Regions from separate parts of the Homo sapiens genome. Here regions 1 and 2 are each linked to region 3. Evidence: fine-mapped expression QTL. A gene starts in region 3. Each other region holds a variant in brackets. All regions are shown on one strand. Distances are from middle to middle. Region 1 overlaps CACNA1D (calcium voltage-gated channel subunit alpha1 D). Region 2 overlaps CACNA1D (calcium voltage-gated channel subunit alpha1 D). Region 3 holds the start of CACNA1D (calcium voltage-gated channel subunit alpha1 D).

The links. PIP is the estimated chance that this variant, and not a neighbour inherited with it, causes the effect.
Region 1: its variant is the best candidate, but not a certain one, in a credible set for the expression of CACNA1D in whole blood (TOPMed, PIP 0.51).
Region 2: its variant is the best candidate, but not a certain one, in a credible set for the expression of CACNA1D in whole blood (TOPMed, PIP 0.78).

The regions. Positions count from the first base shown.
Region 1 is chr3:53,674,343-53,677,016 of GRCh38, forward strand. The region is part of intron 8 of CACNA1D (calcium voltage-gated channel subunit alpha1 D); the gene reads left to right. Among named protein-coding and RNA genes, the nearest start is that of CHDH, 170 kb to the right of the region's middle. The variant T/C (reference allele first, on the strand shown) is at 1,482.
Region 2 is chr3:53,593,413-53,596,086 of GRCh38, forward strand. All of the region lies in intron 3 of CACNA1D (calcium voltage-gated channel subunit alpha1 D), which reads left to right. Among named protein-coding and RNA genes, the nearest start is that of CACNA1D, 100 kb to the left of the region's middle. The variant T/C (reference allele first, on the strand shown) is at 1,080.
Region 3 is chr3:53,493,274-53,495,947 of GRCh38, forward strand. CACNA1D (calcium voltage-gated channel subunit alpha1 D) reads left to right here and starts at 1,338. Exons shown (of 48, transcript NM_001128840.3): 1 at 1,338-1,960. The coding sequence starts at 1,894. RefSeq lists enhancers at 787-1,286, 1,617-2,402, 2,403-2,674.

The DNA of each region.
Region 1 (2,674 bases), 180 kb after region 3:
GCTTGGTGTTCTAGTGCTGTCATTGTGAGAACTGTCCCTGTGATTCAGTTTTAACCGAAACTTACAGAATCCTTCTCTTAATGCAGAGTGATGATCGACTTTTGTGCACACATTTCCCATGGCCTTACAGAGACCCCGTCATTCAGTCACGATTTTTGAAGTTTGCTTGTTTATCACTTCCTCTCTATGGATTGACTCTCCATAAAGAGGGTGCAACAGATTCTGGCCTGGAAAGGGAACTCCTTATGTTGCAGGCTCTGCCTTGCCCGTAGCTGGAGATGCCATCCCAGAACCCTTGTGGGCAGCCCTGCATCCACACCGCCTCTCAGACACCCCCAGAAGGTGGGGTGCTACAGAGAAGGGAGCTGGGGGCTGTATGGCTCTCTCACAATCAGCTCCTTCATACAGCCATTGCCGGGTTGTGGGGGGCAGGCAGGATACCAGGAGGCCAAGAGGGGCCCACGTCTCCCAGAGGAGCCTCTGTCACTGCGCTGCGCCCAGGCACCCTCAGGAAGTAGTGTTGATGGATTTGATTCCAGGCAAGTTTATCTCCTCCTCACTCACTTTATCTTGCTCTTTCCGAGGCTGTATCTCGGGGAAGTGATGTCTTCATGTATGCTGAGTTAGTGAAAGGCTTTAATCGCATTTTTGGAAACACTGCCTTTTCCAGAGCAGAAAGCAGAGTGCGTTTATCCATCTCGGCTTCCTTTCTGCATCTTCCCCTAAACCTGCCCTGGATTGAATGTAGTCAGTTCCACACCAGGGACGCATACTGTCACAGGAAGTCCCTATGTAGAGTTGGCCCAGGGGCCAGTGCCCGCCAGAGAGAGGAGTGGGGGCTGAGCCTGGGATGGGGCCACATAACCCTCCCCTGCCTGAGCCGCCTCCTGTAGATGAGTGGCTCCTCAAGCCTCCGGCCCTTCCACCTCAACGTGAGAAGTGTCTCTCTCCTAGTAAACCTCAGTGGCCTTAGGCTAGGGTTGGACATGTGAGGGTGGTGTCTATTCCTGGAGAAATAACATCGCATTTGATTTTGCCACAGGAGCTTTCTATACAAGGTTAACAGCAATCCTGTTGTGAATTCCTTGGCGCCTCATGTCTCCTAAACCCAGCTAAACTGACGGAGGCCATGGAAACCACTAATTTTAACAGTGCCGGTGACATCCCTTATCTTTTAGCTTTCCCAGGCAGGAACCGTTGCCCCAGCAGACATGATGAAGTAGAGGCAGGAGCCAGATCGTGAGGTGCTTAAAAAAAGAAAAGAGAAAAAGATGGGCGGGGGGGCTTCCCACTATCACAAATGGGGATTAAACCTGCAACTCCGTGGGAGGTACCCAAAGCTGGAGGATAAAAAAGGTACACTCCTTCATGGAACAACCAGTTTACTGAAATATATTTTGGGGGGAAATAATTTTTTTAAAAAATATTTTTTCATCAAAACAAAACTTAGATCCCTGATGGAGGAGACTGGAAATGACACA[T/C]GAAATTATAAAAGAAAACCCGAGACTTCTCTGCGATTTTTAACTGTCAGTGCGGGCTGTGCTCAAACCCCTAGAGGCTGCACATGACCTCCTCTCTACTCCCCCAGAAGGCCTCCGGTAGGGCTGGTTTGGGTAAAGGCAGAACCATGTCTGCAAAGCACAGCCTCGCAGCTTTGTTCCTGATTTGGCCAGTATTTCCTGAGATCCTGTAGAGTGCCCGGCTCTGGTCCAGAGGCGAGGGGTGCCAGGATGTCTCAGACACAGACAGCGGCCTTGTGCTTAGGCGTTCATTATCTCATGGGGTAGCCCATTTTGAAGCAGTGCAGAAGGGCACATATTCAGTAGAGGTGCAGACCCAGAGGCTCTGTGAGCTGCACTAGAGAGATGAGGAGGCATCTCCCCCGGCGACTGACGATGGGCTGGCATGCCTCCACCTCCGCCCCTCCGCCCCCTCGCCCTCCCAACCACCACCTTCCCTCTCTGCCTGCTACTCCCCTCTTACTTTCCCATTGATATTTTTGTTGTTGTTTAAGCAAATTATTATTATTTTTTTAAATTTTAGCCTCAAGAGTCTTCATAATTTTTTAAGGGAACACTAGAGGTACTGCAAAACCAGAAGGATATAAATGTTGAGAGGAAGACAATTTGTGTTGCATAGACCCTGAGGGACTGTCAGACCAACACAAATGTAATCCGCTAAGCACTGAATTAAAACGCCCTCATTTTAGAAAGGCTGGTCGAGACCATGTGATTGCCTTCTCACGAGGAAATGTTAGATGGTGCTGTATGTCTTCAAGTCTGTCAGCCATTTGGAAATACCTGTATCTGTTTTTGCTCCTTGGCTCCGTCATGTGTGTGGCCATGCCATCCTATTGTATTCTTGAACAGACTTTAATCTGCACATTGGATTTGGTGTTTATTTGTAAAGTGTTGTAACACTGATGCTTTGGGAAAATCTTTGGTTTTATAACAGTCTTTTTTCCCTCAAGGTAAGTATGAAGTTTATGAACTGTAAACCCTATGCAGCCATGCATGAATATAGATGAATACTTCCATCTCTGATCACAGTGCTCTGTGGGAGGGGCTGAGAATGTCTATGTCTAATGTTGCAATTTAACCTTAAGTTGTCATTGAGGATATGCTCCCATTATGACCAGGAATTGGAAAGAATGTCTTCTTTAAGTCTGCAATTC
Region 2 (2,674 bases), 100 kb after region 3:
TAAGTGGAATTAAATAACTCCCCCCAGCACCTCCTACTTTCTCTCCTCAGATGTGTGAGTGGTAAATACTTTGGAAGAAATACACCCCAAGCCTGGTGTGTTCACTCTGCTCCCAAAGGTGCTTGGGCAGTTGGTGGTGATGGGAGTGTTGGTTGATTGTAGCTCTGTATATGAGGGTGTCTGAGGATTGTAAAATTATCAGGAAATCCCTCTTGGTGTTGAAGTCATGAGCAGGTGCAGGAGAGGTGAAAGGAAAGGGCAGTGGGTATTCTTCCCCCTCAAAGTGTGGGAAGAGCAGTGCTCCAAGGCCACCCAAGGAGCTGGGATTTTTTCCTTCTAAGCTGGTTTTCCCTTTCTCCCCACTCCCAACTAGCACGTGGGCAGAAGGAAGTGCTTTATCTGCCTGCTACAGGGCTGGGAAATGTGGCCCGTGTACTGCCTCAGTGCTTGGGTCACCAGCGGAGATGGCTGCAGTCCCAGCCAGCTCTGCAGGAGCTTCAGTCAGAAACGCTGATGTTAGGATGCATTCTTCAGGGAGCTGCAGCTTTTCTTAGAAGGTGGAAAAAGAGAAAGAAGTGAGTAAGGTGAAGTCTTAGAAGAAGGAACAACAGAAACCAAGTTCAGTGACAGCCCACCAGGCCTGGCAGAGTCTGACAAGGAGTCTGTGAGGTAGGGAGTGTGCACGTGTGTCCGTGTGTGTAAAGGCTAATGGAATGGGAGACGCCCTTGAACAGAAAGGCTTTCACCCATAAGTGTGAAGTCTGGTTCGTCTTAGCGACAAAAGTTAGAAAACCACTTTCAGACAATAATTGTATTATTTTACAGCATTCGAAGCAACCTGAGTTGGTCTCAAAGGTGGCTCCCTCAGGCCTTACCTGAGGATGGGGACAGAGTTGCTCAAATGCTTTGGGATTACTGAGACTAGAGTCAGGATAAGCTCGATCCCAGGTTCCTCAGGCCATGCTTTTCCACTAGCCAATTCAGTCCCTTCAGCAAGTGTTTGTCGAGCACTTACTAGATAGCAGGTACTGCTCTTGGCACTAGAGATATTTGGTGAAAAGGTCAGCCTGGAGCTTCCA[T/C]TCTACTCAGGAGACAAATGAGTAAATACAGGAGGTGATTTAGAGAGCACCTGCCTCCTGTAGGAAAGAAAGGGAGGTTATGCAACAGCACCTGGTAAGGGTGGTCAGGGAAGGCCATGTGGGGCTCTGGGACAGAATTTTCCAGGCGGAAGGAAGATACAGAGGCTTCAAGGCAGAAAGAAACATCATTGTGGAGTAATGGCAGGTGGCTGATCCCACTCTCTGCATGCAGAAAAGAGCAGCAGCCTTCTTGAAGCCTTCTTACCTTTCTCACGTTAGTACAATTCCACACCCTTGTGTGTATGTGGCAGCCACTGTCATAGGCATCAGGGATCCTGCTTTTCTTCCCCTTGACCAAGATGTGAAGATTTGTGATCAGAGCATCAGAAATAAAGTCCCTTGAGACTTGCAGATTGAGGAAAAAATGACAGGAGTCACCCAGATATGAAAATCAGATCTTGAATTCGTCTATTGATCAGGCATTAGGCATGGTGGGAGTTCAGTCCGTTTCAGCTTTAATGTCCTGTTGTTTTGCTATTGATTTCTTTCCTCAGGTTTCAATTGGTATTTTTTCCATGTTGTCTATACATTGGTCATCTATTTTAGTGATGCTAATTGTTTAGCTATTAAAATGGTGCATTAGTCCCACACAACTCTTATAAACAGCTGTGTAGTAAGGAGTATAATCTTTGTATCTGTAGTCCCCCTTAGGGTTAATAATTAGGTTTTTGACAGCCAGCTCAGCCGGCTTGTTTTCACAGTGCCCTGTTTCCCACTGGAGAATGCAAGGATGCAGTCACGGGAGGACCAGGTGGACAGCATTTGGAGGATTTGGGTGGATCTAAGAATATTTTCATTTGGAAGAACAGGATGGACACCAGAGGCCAAACCAAGGAGTAGAGGAAAACATGGCACCTTTCCCCCATCCCACCCCTGGAACTTTCACCCACAGTATAGGGTTGCCTTGAAGCTCTGGATTACCATGGAGCTTTCAATGAGTAGGAGGAGACATCCATTTGTCCTCTGTCTCCAGCTGGCCCCGGGAACTATTCAACATCTGGGATTGCTTCCTGCGGTGCCCCCTGACCCAACTCACCAGAGTCTACCGACTCTAGACCCACTGTTGTCCTGGGCCCCTGCCTGACTCTTTTACCCACTCCAGGATGACCCTGGTTTCTACTGACACCTGCCTGACCTAACTCGGTTTGTCTAGAATGCAGTTGAAGTTGCAGCAAGGGAGATGAGGAAGGGTAAGAATTGGTGAAAAAAATTACAAAGGTTTTTCATGGTTCCTACCCTCGATGAGTTTACAGTCTAGTCTTCATGAGGACATGTGCTCATTTGATCATAAGGCATTTTGTGACATGTGCCTGGAGGTGATTCAGACAGATGGGCAGGGCAGGAGGGAATGCTGGGGTGTGTATAGCAAAATGTGTTATTAAATTATGGCATCTGTTGTCAACAACCGGTTTAGACCTTCTTGATCTCCTGGGGTTTCTTTTCAGTTACAGAATTCTGTCATCATTACAGAAACAAGGCTTAGCCACTTACTGCTTTAAATACCAAAAAGAGATGGCGAATAAGATTGGGATCCA
Region 3 (2,674 bases):
CAAAGCACAAAAAAGGACAAGAGCCTGGTTGTTTTCATCCTCACGGACCAGACACCCCCTCAGGAAGGCCTCTGGAGAGTCTTCTGTCTGGTCCCCAGTCTCTCTGCCCAGGTGCCCCCCAACAATTGAGGATGACTAGTGTGTTCTCTTTGGGTAAGGAGCACCTTCCCATAAACACTTATTTTTCTTAATTCACGCTGAGCTTTTACTTTATTTTCGCTTTAAAGTCACTGTTCTGAAACGTTCTAAAACGCCGTAGGAACATGCAGATAGGAACAAAAGCAAATAAATCGAATCCTGTGAAGTAACAAAGCAGACGCCCTTCTCCTAACAGGCAGCACAAAGCTAAATGAAAAATATCAGTCATCCACTAGATAAAGTATTTTCCCCTTTAGACAGGAGCTGCCGTTTGCAAATCTCCCCCACCCTAAATCCAAGCCAGCGAAGGTATCAAAAAATAAACTACTCCCTTCAGCTCCCAGACTGGAGGCAACAGTTTCAGCAGCACCGTCTATTTCCTTGAACAACACGAGCGGTTTGAAAGACCTTGGCTTTGACTTCCCTGTACCTGCCTCCAAACACACGTGGGGGCGGGGTGGGGTGGGGGGAGATATTGCCCCCCATCCCCGTTGCCTTCCGCGACGCCAGGCCAGGCGCAGGGCAGGGGAGAAGATGGGGGGCGCCCTGGATTCGCGGTTCCAGCTGCAGGCAGTTACCTGGGGTAGTGAGTGCTCTCTACAGACCCGGGCTACCCCAACCCCCCCGATTCCAGAAAGGGCCGGAGAAAAGCAGGGGGCGCCTGCCCCGCTCCGGAGCAGCCAGGGAGCCCGGCCGAGCCTTGACGAGGATGAGCTCGGAGACCGCAGCAGCTACCGCCCGCTAGCACCTGAGCTCCCAGGGGGCGGGGCCTCCTCCAGGTGTGCGCAGAGGAGGCCGGCGCGGAGTCGGGGCCGGCGCGGGAGCCCGAGCTGTCCCCCAGCCCAGAAATGCGCGGGGAGGAGCGGTTCATCCGCACCCCAGCGCCGCGGGAGACACTGGCGCCGCCTGCCTCCTCCGGGTCCCGGGGGGAGAGCGCACCGTGCGGCGCGGAGGGGGTTAACCGGGCAGCCCGCCGCTGGAGCGCGCTTAACCCTTTGGAGCCCGCAGGTCAGCCGGGCCAGGCTGGGGTGGCGGCACCCCGAGTCCCACGCGACGGCCACCCCGAGCGCGCAAGTGGTGCCGGGCAGAACCGCGCGCCGGGCTGCAGACCCGCCGGGGCGCGGCGCGGCGCGGGCCGTGGGCGGCTCGGGGCGGGCGGAGGGCGGGGGACGGCGGCGGGCGCGCAGCGTCGCCAGGGCGAAGCCGGCGTGCGGCGCGGCGCGGCGGGCGCGGAGCGAGCGGGCGGGCGAGCGCCTCCGTCCCCGGATGTGAGCTCCGGCTGCCCGCGGTCCCGAGCCAGCGGCGGCGCGGGCGGCGGCGGCGGGCACCGGGCACCGCGGCGGGCGGGCAGACGGGCGGGCATGGGGGGAGCGCCGAGCGGCCCCGGCGGCCGGGCCGGCATCACCGCGGCGTCTCTCCGCTAGAGGAGGGGACAAGCCAGTTCTCCTTTGCAGCAAAAAATTACATGTATATATTATTAAGATAATATATACATTGGATTTTATTTTTTTAAAAAGTTTATTTTGCTCCATTTTTGAAAAAGAGAGAGCTTGGGTGGCGAGCGGTTTTTTTTTTAAATCAATTATCCTTATTTTCTGTTATTTGTCCCCGTCCCTCCCCACCCCCCTGCTGAAGCGAGAATAAGGGCAGGGACCGCGGCTCCTACCTCTTGGTGATCCCCTTCCCCATTCCGCCCCCGCCTCAACGCCCAGCACAGTGCCCTGCACACAGTAGTCGCTCAATAAATGTTCGTGGATGATGATGATGATGATGATGAAAAAAATGCAGCATCAACGGCAGCAGCAAGCGGACCACGCGAACGGTGAGCAGCCAGAGCCCGGGCACCCGCTGCCAAATCCGATCCTGTCATGGTCCTCCAGCCCCCTCCCCCTTCCCCGCGGCGCTGGATGGGTTGAGGGGGTTGGAGAGGGTGCTGCCAGCTCGGTGTCGTCTACACAGAGAGGGGACATGCGTGACAGCCACTCCGCGCTCCCCTCCAGGCCCTGAATGTCAGAGTTAATTCTGCATTTGTGGGGTGGGGGCGGCCGTGGAGTGTGTGGAGCGCGGTGCAGCCGGAGGGGCGGCGAGTCGGGGTGATTCGGGTTCAGTGTCCTCGGGCTCAACTTTCCTTCAACGCCCCCGAGCGATGGCAGGAGGGCCGCAAGTCTTCAGCCGGAGCCCCCTTGCCAGCCTCTTCTCGCCTTCCACTCCTCCCCCGCCCCCTCGTTGACTAGGAAGAAGGTCCCTGGTGGCATCCGGAAAATTCTAGGATTGCCCGGTTTCGCCCTCCGCGCCGGTGGGTGAAGCACACCCATCCCCTCGCGGGGGAGGCCCGGCCTCGGTATCGGGGAAAGGGGTTCGGGTGGAGCGTGCGTTCCCGCTCCCGTCGCCGGCTGTGCACACGTCGGTAACCTAGCAATGCCCGGGGAGCCGCTGCCGCTGTGGGGCTCCCCTCCCCAGCTCTGGCCCGGGCACCACGTGCAGCTTCCACGCCGGCCGGGGCTGGGTCGAGGGAGGATGGAGCAGCTCCTGGCCA